2 separate regions of the Homo sapiens genome follow, and region 1 is linked to region 2. The links come from fine-mapping of genetic effects on gene expression. A gene starts in region 2. The other region holds a variant in brackets. All regions are shown on one strand. Distances are between the middles of the regions.

The links. PIP is the estimated chance that this variant, and not a neighbour inherited with it, causes the effect.
Region 1: its variant is fine-mapped to the expression of VNN2 in whole blood (INTERVAL, PIP 0.99).

Annotation. Positions count from the first base shown.
Region 1 is chr6:132,729,520-132,734,903 of GRCh38, forward strand. It overlaps the pseudogene VNN3P. Among named protein-coding and RNA genes, the nearest start is that of VNN1, 18 kb to the left of the region's middle. The variant C/T (reference allele first, on the strand shown) is at 2,549.
Region 2 is chr6:132,754,583-132,759,966 of GRCh38, forward strand. It overlaps VNN2 (vanin 2), which reads right to left and starts at 3,322. Exons shown (of 7, transcript NM_004665.6): 1 at 3,089-3,322; 2 at 2,834-2,964; 3 at 1,261-1,453. The coding sequence starts at 3,301.

The DNA.
Region 1 (5,384 bases), 25 kb before region 2:
AGAAATCCTGAGATAAGTACAGACATGAAATTGTTTTACCAAGTCCATCCATATTAAAGATATTTATCCTTGGTATAAGAAGAGAATGTAGCATGGTGATAGCTGGCTTCAAATATTTGAAAGGCTTAATTTATAGGAGATGGGTCATATGTGTGAACATAGCATAGAATGCAGGAAAAAGACGAAAGGAAGTTAAAGTGAGGCAGATTTCAGCAGAAAATAAGACAAAAAATGTTTAGCAACCAGCTCACTCTGTTAAATAAGTGGATTTGCTAGTCACTAAAAATTTTATTATAATATGGTTCATCTAGGCCCTTAGAGTCCATTCCGTTAGCACAGTTAAATGACATAGCTGTTTTAATTCCAGCCAATCTAATGATCAATCATGAGATCATAAGCCTTCCTTTTTTCACATATTTGTAATGCAAATAGTAATGCCAACTACATAAATTGAATGTAATAATGGGTATAGTATACCAGGTACAGTTCTTGGGACCAAGTAAGTGCTCAGTAAATGAAAATTGCTATTATGGATTGTGTGATTAGAGGCCATTCCATGTCTCTCTATGAACTCACAGCCCCTCTGCAATTGAGGTTAAACTAACCTTTGAATAAAAAGGACAGATTAATGGCCTACTGGTTTAGACCTTTTCTTTTTATTTTCTTCTAAAAAAAACAGAGAAGTACTATTAATATTCATATTCATTAAGACCTTTAATAACTTTATCATGTACTTTGTTTAATTTTTCTTTTCTTGACTAAATAATTTGAGTTATTTAATATTTCCTACTAGTTACTCGTGAAAAAAGCCCATGGAACTGTTTGACATGTCAGCATTCTAAATATTTAAATGCACAAGGATGACCGCATGCCTCTCTACTATTCTCTTCAGGGATAAATATCACCAGGGAGAAAACTGACTTTCTTTTCCAATATTATCATTATATTAAATACTGGATTTCTCCTTTCTGTAACACAAAACTGAAACGTTGTCATTTGAATAAGTAGGTGTAAGAGTTCATAATGTTGACATTTCATCAGTCACCTACTTTCCCAACTTAAAATAATTTATCGATAGCTAATTATCAAATTTATGGATATATTTTCCCTGGAAAAGTCAGTTTCATTAGCCCAGTCAAATACAGTACATTTTCGTGTAAGCCTCATCAACTGCAGCAAATAATGATTCCTTCCTGTTCTGGGAAACGCCTCATAAGCAAGTAGATGTTGAATCATAGTGACATGGTTTCTGTAAACACAGACCATGCAATGTTTAGAGAATATTTTTCCAAAGGGCAAAATCCCAGAGTGAGGTTTGACTCACATAGCTGAGCCTGAATGTTGTACCATTAAGCATGACTTTCCACTTAATTTCACATAGGTAAAATTATCAAAGAAGTTTCTCTTTTTGCACAATAGGTGTAGTTCTAAACAGGTGCATGTAAATTTAAAATTAGCAAGTTAAATGACTTCTTAACCCATCAATTTTGCCATTTAAAGAAATAATCTTAAACTATTTTTAAAAGTTAATACAACTAAAATAATCTATTTCACAGATATCATATTTATTATGCATATTTTCTTTAAGAAAGTTATGCCTAAATTACATCTACTAATAATTACTAAAGTCTCTCAAAGGACAAGAACACAAAGAAGTTCAGACTCAGTCCCTTCTGTTAACAAAAAAAAAAAAGGAATAGTGACAGCTAGCATTGGAGAGTGCATCACAATGTACAAATTCCATGTGTATTACTTCATTACTCTTGTCTGATCTGTAAGAGAATTAAGGGACTCTATTATCCCTGTTTTACAGATAATGAAACAGAAATGTTAAGCATTTAGGTTATACGCTTACATCACTCAGCTAGGTGGTCGTAAAATGTGGTCCCAGAAGTAGGGCTTCCTTTTTCAAGTCCTATACAATTTCCATTGGCCATATTGATTGCATTCTGAATGACAGTGATAGCAAAGCTCTTTGGAAACAGGCTCATTCATCTTTTTACTCTTCCTGTGAAGGAGGCAGGTGTCCATGGATGAACCAACTTACTTGTATTTGGGACACAGGTTCTAGATATTCCAACTTTTTCACTTTGTTCAAACCCAATTAAACACATTTACTATAAAAATTGTGTATATACCTACTATTTTTTTTTCGAGATGGAGTCTCACTCTGTTGCCCAGTCTGGAGTGCAGTGGCGTGATCTCGGCTCACTGCAACCTCTGCCTCCTGGGTTCAAGTAGTTCTCCTGCCTCAGTCTCCCGAGTAGCTGGGATTATAGGCATGCACAACCACACCCAGCTAATGTTTGTATTTTTTAGTAGAGATGGGGTTTCACCATGTTGGCCAGGCTGGTCTCGAACTCCTGACCTCAGGTGATTTGCCCACCTCCACCTCCTAAAGTTCTGGGATTACAGGCGTGAGCCACCACACCCGGCCTATACCTACTATTTTTTTAAGACAAGGTCTTACTGTCACCCAGGCTGGAGTGCAGTGGTGCAATCATAGCTCACTGCAGCCTCAAACTCCTGGGCCCCAGTGATCCTCCTG[C/T]TTCAGCCTCTCGAGTAGCTGGGATTATAGGTGTGAGCCACCACACCTGGCTAAATTTTTTATTTGCCGAAATAGGGTCTGGCTTTGCTGCGCAGGCTGGTCTCAAACTTCTGGCTTCAAGCAGTCCTCCTGCTTTGGCTTCCCACAGTGATGGGATTACAAGTGTGAGCCACCACGCCTGGTCACACCTACTATTGTTGAAAGACAATTGCAACAAATAACCAACTAGTCATCAGTATCTCAAGTCATTTACCAAACAGGAGATATGCCAGATGATATACACTATGAAACATAAGCAGTATCTGCAGATTCAACACTATTTCTTTTCTTCTTTTTTTTTTTTTTTTTTTTTTGAGACAGAGTCTCACTCTATCGTTCAAGCAATTCTCATGCCTTAGCCTCCCGAGTAGCTGGGATTACAGGCACACACCACCACACCCAGCTAATTTTTGTATTTTAGTAGAGATGGGGTTTTACCACGTTGGCCAGGCTGGTCTCAAACTCCTAATCTCAAGTAATCCACCTGCCTTGGCCTCCCAAAGTGCTGGGATTATAGGCATGACCCACAGCACCCAGCCTCAACACTATTTCTAACATACTACCAATGTCATTTTTTCACAGATTTATAAACAAAATTTCTAAAATTCATATGGAACCAAAAAAGAGCCTGAATCGCCAAACCAATCCTAAACAAAAAGAACAAAGCCTGAGGCATCACATTACCCAAGGCTACAGTAATCAAAACAACATGGTACTGTTAGAAAAACAGACACATAGACCAATAGAACAGAATAGAGAGCCTAGAAACAAAGCCGCACACCTACAGCCATCTGTAGCTCAAACAAAGTTCACAAAAATAAGTATGGGGAAAGGACTCCTTATTCAACAAAAGGTGCTGGAATATCTGGCTAGCCATATGCAGAAGATTGAAACTGGACCCCTATCTTTCACCATGTACAAAAATTAACTCAAGATGTATTAAAGATTTAAATGTATGACCTCAAACTATAAGAATCCTAGAAGAAAATCTAAGAAACACCATTCTGGACATGAACCTTGGAAAATAATTTATGACTAAGTCCTCAAAAGCAATTGCAACAAAAACAAAACTTGACATGTAGGACCTAATTTAACTAAAGAGCTCTGTACAGCAAAAGCAACTATCAACAGAGTAAATAGACAACCTACAGAATGGGAGAAAATATTTGCAAACTAGGCATCTAACAAAGGTCTACTATCCAGAATCCATAAGGAACTTAAATCAATAAGCAAAAACAAAACAAATAACCCCATTGAAAAGTGGGCAAAAGACATGAACAGACACTTCTCAAAAGAGGACATACAAGTGGCCAAAAAACACGTGAACAAACACTCAACATCACTTATCATCAGAGAAATGCCAAGCAAAACCACAATGAGATATCATCTCACACCAGTCAGAATGACTGTTAACAAAAAGTCAAATAATAAAAGATGCTATGGAGAAAGGGGAACACTTACACACTATTGGTGGAAATGTAAATTAGTTCAGCCATTGTGGAAAGCAGTTTGGAGATTTCTCAGAGAACTTAAAACACAGCAACCATTCGACTCACAATCCCATTACTAGGTATATACCCAAAGGAAAGGAAATCATTCTACCAAAAAGACTCGTGCACTTGTATGTTCATCGCAGCACTTTTCACAACAGCAAAGATATGGAATTAACCTAGGTGCCCACAAGAAGGAACAAAATCATGTCTTTTGCAGCACCAAAGGACATTATCCTCAGCAAGTTAACACAGGAACAGAAAACCAAATACTGCATGTTCTCACTTATAAGTGGGAGCTAAGCATTGGGAACTCATGGCCATAAAGATGACAGCAATAGACACTGGGAACTAATAGAGGGGAGAGAGAGAGAGGAAGGCAAGGGCTGAAAACCTTCCTGTTGTATACTATGCTGGGTGGTGCAATCATTGTACCCCAATCCTCAGCGTCATGCAATTTGCCCATGTAACAAACCTGCACATGTACTCCCTCAATCTAAGCTAAAAGTTGAAATTACAGGGAAAAAAAAGCATCTACATCCTATGCCACAGATTGACTATTTATCAACACAATTACCAGTCAAATTCAGTGAGTTTACTGTTGGTGTTTTACCAAATCACAACTTTTTGTTTAGAAATTAATGATATGATATTACCTCCAGGGGTCTCTACATGGAATCCAGTTCACTCCAGGGTCTGGTATATCCTCTAGATAGGGGTAAATGCTCTCCCTGGTGAAGATCCAACCATAGATTCCATCTTCTGGGGTCACAATGATATGTGCACCCTGCTCGAAACAAGTGGGGCAAAAAAGTTTGTCATGAATTCCAAATACTCTTTGACCAAACTGCAAGTCTCCTTTACAAGTATAAAAGGGTAATACCTGCTTCGCTGCCAGCTTAACTGCTTTCTCCAAAACATCTATGTTCTTGTTCATCAGGAGCAAAGCTTCTTCTTTTGAAACAGGTGTTTCTGTTCTGTTTGGTAATATCACCGCATGCTCATATACTGCAGCAATAAAAGTGTCCAGTGCACCAACACTCAGAGCAAGGAGGGCAAAAACTGCCACACATTTTGGAAAATGTGATATAATCATAACTAAAATTTAGTGATCTTTGAAAAACAAACTCAGATTCTTACGTTTTGTTTCACTGGAAAAACTTTACATTAAATCCCTCCTGGCAATCAGCTGTTTATATTTTCTTGCACATATATTACACAACACAGCATTGAGAAAGGATGTTGTGCAAGAAAACTGACAGCCAGGACGTAATTGGATTGATTCAAGTGTACAGTGCAGTTGTTGA
Region 2 (5,384 bases):
CTGGGTGTGGAGAAGGGACATTCATACTGCCTGTACATCACACATATCCATTTAAAAGGCCAGGCTTCTTTCTCTACCTAGTTTAGTATAAAATTATGACTTAAAGGTTATTTGATTCCTTTTTTCAATTCAGAATTTAAAGTAAACATTTTATGGTTTGATCTTAAATCTATAAGATGGTAATTAAATTAGCTGGTGTAGAAAATAAGGTATTTTGTGGTTTGATAGCAAATTAACTTATGCAAAGCTGATTCATACAATTTTGAAACATCTTTCTACCATTTCAATATTAAATAGTATTTAGATTATGGCTGTGCTCAGTGGCTCATGCCTCTAATCTCAGCATTTTGGGAGGCCAAGGTGGGAGGACTGCTTGAGGTGAAGAGTTCAAAGACAGCCTGGGCAATGTAGTGAGACTCTGTTTCCAAAAAAATATTTAAAAATTAGCATGGTGGCACATGCCTACAGTCTCAGCTACTTGGGAGGCTGAGGCAGGAGGATCACTAGAGCCCAGGAGTTTGAGGTTAACAGTGAGCCATGATGGCTCCACTGCACTCCAGCCTGGGCAACAGTGAGACCCTGTCTCTAAAAAAATATAAAATTATTGAAACAGTGCCCAGATTATAGTCACCTTAGTATCTTTTTTTATGTTAAAATTATTTGTTTTATATGTGCAAAAAGTTTATCTCAATCCTGGACCATCATGCTACTTTTTTTTTTTTTTAACAGTTCTCTGCCTACATGTTTTTCTGAGTAGTTTTTTACAACGTGTCATTTTCTTTTTTCTTTTTCTTTTTTTTCTTTTTTTTTTTTTGAGAGTCTCCCTCTGTCACCCAGGCTGGAGTGCAGTGACACAATCTCGGCTCACTGCAGCCTCCACCTCCTGGGTTCAAGCAAGTCTCCTGCTTCAGCTCCCACATAGCTGGGACTACAGGCATGTGCCATCACGCCCCGCTAATTTTTGTATTTTTTAGTAGAGACGGGGTTTCACAATGTTGGCCAGACTGGTCTCAAATTCCTGGCCTCAAGTGATCCACCTGCCTCAGCCTCCCAAAGTGCTGGGCTTACAGGCATAAGCCTCCACGCCCAGCCAAAAGTGTCATTTTCTTTATTGCCCACTTTCAAAAAACAAAAAACAAAACAAAACAAAAAAACCCTCTAGTAATATTGTATCATATAGGGAATGAAATTCAAACTCCTAAACCCAGCATTGACCACTCACAACACGCTCCATTTTACACGTCCGTCACTCTCTCTTACCTTATGGTAACGTGCCACGAGTTTTCCTTCTGTATTATACACCACATTGGTATTGTATTGAAAGTAGCCATTAGGAGGACATGTGGAGTCACGGGAATTACATGGCTTTTTGTCCCCCAAATTTGCCAAGACATAGATAGAGTTGTCCTTGGCCAGGCAGCTGAGTCTTGCTTGTACTGGTGTGTGACCAAATCTAAACCAAATTATAATTAAGAAATTTCAATTTTAAAAAAATATTTTAGTCACTTTATATGGAAACGATAGCAACTGTAACCACTTAAGTGGAACTTAAGTTAATACAAAAACTATGCCTAAAAATATCATACTTTAAAAGCCACAGATGATTATACACTTGATGAATGCTTCCCACACGGTATCTATTGCTCCAGAAATTCATTATTCGGTCTCCTGCCTCATCAAGGGTCTCCTCTCTACTGAAACATCCCATCAGCAATGAAATATCCTCTAGTACCTCCCATCTTTAAAAAATAAAATTAAAACCTCTTTTGACCTTTCCAAACATGCCCTTCCAAATATTGCTTTAATCCTCATCTCTCTCTTAAAGCAAAACTCCTCAAAAGATCAGTCCCTCTTGCTGTTGCCAGTTCCTCCTCTCCCATTCCCTTTCAGAGCACTCCAACTTGTATCTCTATCACCCAAACTCTTACTAATGCCAGCAGTGACCCCCACATTTTACCTGATCTCATCTTAACTTTTCAACAGCAGTTGGCACAGTTAATTACACCTCCTTCTGGAAACACCTCACTTCTCTATTGGACCCACCCTCTCATTTTCCTATTTATTGGTTGCTCTTCTTCGACTCTTCTGCTGATTCCTCGTTTTCTTCCGAGTCTAAACACTAGAATTTCCTAGTGCTCAAGCCTTATACCTAAACTCTTCTCTAACTCACTCCACAGGTGAACTCATCATGGTGTTTAACACCATCTATATGCTGACATTTGATTTTCTATCTCCAGATATAATTTTGTCTTTTCATGCCAGACTTGTCCATGCAACTGCCACGTTGACACCTCCAGGATGACAGTAGGACCCAGATTTTTAATATATATTAGAAGGTTTCTAGATAACCTTTTCCCAGGAAAATTAGATTTGTGAGCCTAGGAAAATGCAGTTTCAAAGCATAAGGTCTTATGATTCACTTGAAAATACATGGTGAAGTCTTTCTGCCTAAGAAGCAACTCTGGAATGGAGAGACTCTATAACATTGAAAGGGTGTCCCTTCAGCAGAGGCTTTGGAATGTATTCCTAACACAATCCACTGTCTACTTCAGAAATTAAGTTACTACTTGTATCTATGAGATCTCTTCCCTTAGTTTTTCTTGCAGGAATACCCTATTTACACATTTTCTCAAAATTTAATAAAGATTTTCAATCACAAAAGATTGTTAAATAGTATCTAAGTACAATTTTTTAAAATCTGACAAATGTTGAGATAAATATAACCATAACATATACCACATATATGGTAATTCAAGAGCAATCATTTTGCTTTGGTGAACGTGCGCATTTTAGAGAGTTACTTTTGCACAAAAGACTAAGATAGTTAAAATACCTGTGGGGGTCTTGACACGGAATCCAGTTCACCTGAGGGTCTGGGATATCCTCCAGATAAGGGAAAACAGTTTCCCTGGTAAATTTCCATCCATAAAGTGCATCTTCTGGAGTCACAATGATTCGAGCACCCTGTTCAAAACAAGCAAAATAAAAATGATTTTTCCATGTACAACACAGACAATTCAGCTCTCTCGTCTTCCACCAGCTCCCATGCCCCTCGTGTACATTATGATTAACAGAAATAAGAGAATACCTGCTCAGCTGCCTGCTTGATCGCTGTCTCCAGAATGTCTATATTCTCGTTCATGAGATTCAAGGCATCCTCCTGAGAAACTGGTGTTTCTGTTTTATTTGGCAAAATGACAGCATGTTCATACACTGCAGCTATAAAACTGTCCTGAGTACCAACCTGCAGGGTTATTAGGGCAAAAACTGCCACAGAGATTGGAAAAGAGGAAGTGACCATGGCCAAGGTTTAGTGATTTCTGAAAGCAAAAATAACATTCATGTAGTATTTACAGAGGGGAGAATGTTTGCATAACATGTGGCTGCCAGTTACTGGCCTTTTACTTTATCATCATTTTTCTTCTTCTTCTTCTTCTTCTTCTTCTTCTTCTTCTTCTTTTTTTTTTTTTTTTTTTTTTTTGAGGCGGAGTTTGCTCTGTCACCCAGGCTGGAATGCAGTGGCGCAAGCTCAGCTCACTACAACTTCCACCTCCCAGGTTCAAGCGATTGTCCTTCTTCAGTCTCTGAAACAGCTAGGACTACAGGTGCGCGCCACCACGTCCAGCTAATTTTTGTATTTTTAGTAGAGATGGGGTTTCACAATATTGGCCAGGCTGGTCTCAAACTCCTGATCTTGTGATCCATCCACCTCAGCCTCTCAAAGTGCTGGGATTACAGGCGTGAGCCACTGCACTTGGCCTACTTTATAATCTTAAGAACGCAATATATCTGACCACTTTTAAAGAAAGAAAAGTTGCAGTCCATTTAAGACAATCAGAAAGTATTACAGGGATTGAACAGCATGTACTATTAGTACTAAGATTTAATATTGAATTTCCAAAAGACACCCGAATTCAAATATAGAACAATTCCAGCTTTTGTTAATAGAAACTCATAACTAACTCTCGTGTAAAAAAATCACATCCCAACAAATATCTCATTTATTAAATTTAAAAATTGACAACAATTTTTTTGGTTCTGTTGAGTCACTTACATTGTGTTTATTTTTAGACGGGGGGGAAAATATTAAATACTTACTACTAAGAAAATGTAACACAGGACAATATTGATAACAAAATTTACCCAAATCTACACTCTGACTTACTTATTGCTATTAAGGACTGAAAACATGTGCTCCAGAAAAGCAGGATTTTGTGTCTGGTTTGTTCACTGCTGTATAGTTAGTGCCTACAGCAACAATACCCCGAGGCACCTAGGCCAGAGGAGGAATCTCAGCTCAGGGGCCCCAGGCCTCAGGATACTCCGCTTCTTTCCTTCTTTCTCTCTTTCACCCTTCCCTCCCCATCCTCCCCCTACTTCTCCTTCTCCTCCTACTCCTTCTCCTCCTTCTTTTTCCTCCCTCCCCACCCCCTGCTTTGGAGGAAGATGCCAGGGAAGGGGAAGAGTCCAGGATTGGTGATAAAGATCATCTGTGTTGTAATAAGGAGAAGATGTAACTTACATTTTTGTTAGCAGCAAATAACAACAATGAGTTTAAAAACAATGCTAACAGGCCAGGTGCAGTGGCTCATGCCTGTAATCCTAGCACTTTGGGAGGCCGAGGCAGGCAGATCACCTGAGGTCAGGAGTTCAAGACCAGCCTGGCCAACATAGTGGAACCCCCCATCTCTACCAAAAACACAAAAAGTAGCTGGTCGTGGTGGTGGGCGCCTGTAATCCCAGCTACTCGGGAGGCTGAGGCAGGAGAATCGCTGGAACCCAGGAGGCAGAGGCTGCAGTGAGCTGAGATCACACCATTGCGCTCCAGGCTGGGCGACAGAGCGAAACTCCGTCTCAAAAAAAAAAAAAAAAAAAAAAACAATAATAACAACAAATACAGGATGTGATCTCAGATGCCTTCTTAGGACATTCATATTCTCCCTTCCCCAGGCCCAATCCTGCCAAATAAAGGATTTGTTTTATTTTTATCCAGCCCTTTGGTAAAAGTCACGGAAATGCTTTTAGACAGCATAGAAGAGTAGGTACGATTAAACAAAGTTTATTCTGTGCTTTCCTTCTTACTGAGATAAATGTTTTGTTAAGAATGGGGCCTAGGGGCTATAAATAAGATCTGCTCATATTTTCTGCTTTGAATAGAAGTTTCTATTAAAGGAATAACTTTTCTTATCTCTATAGAGCAGAAAACTAAAAATAATTCAGGAAAAATGGTCAAGCCCTTTTGTGGAAAATGTAAAGGGATAGATATTTTTATGAATTTTTAGCAGATTGTATAATAGACTGTTAGTATATAACCATACTATCTAGTGTATAATTAGTAAATTAGCATAGGTGATTGGTATATAATAGATTATGAGTGCTGTTAG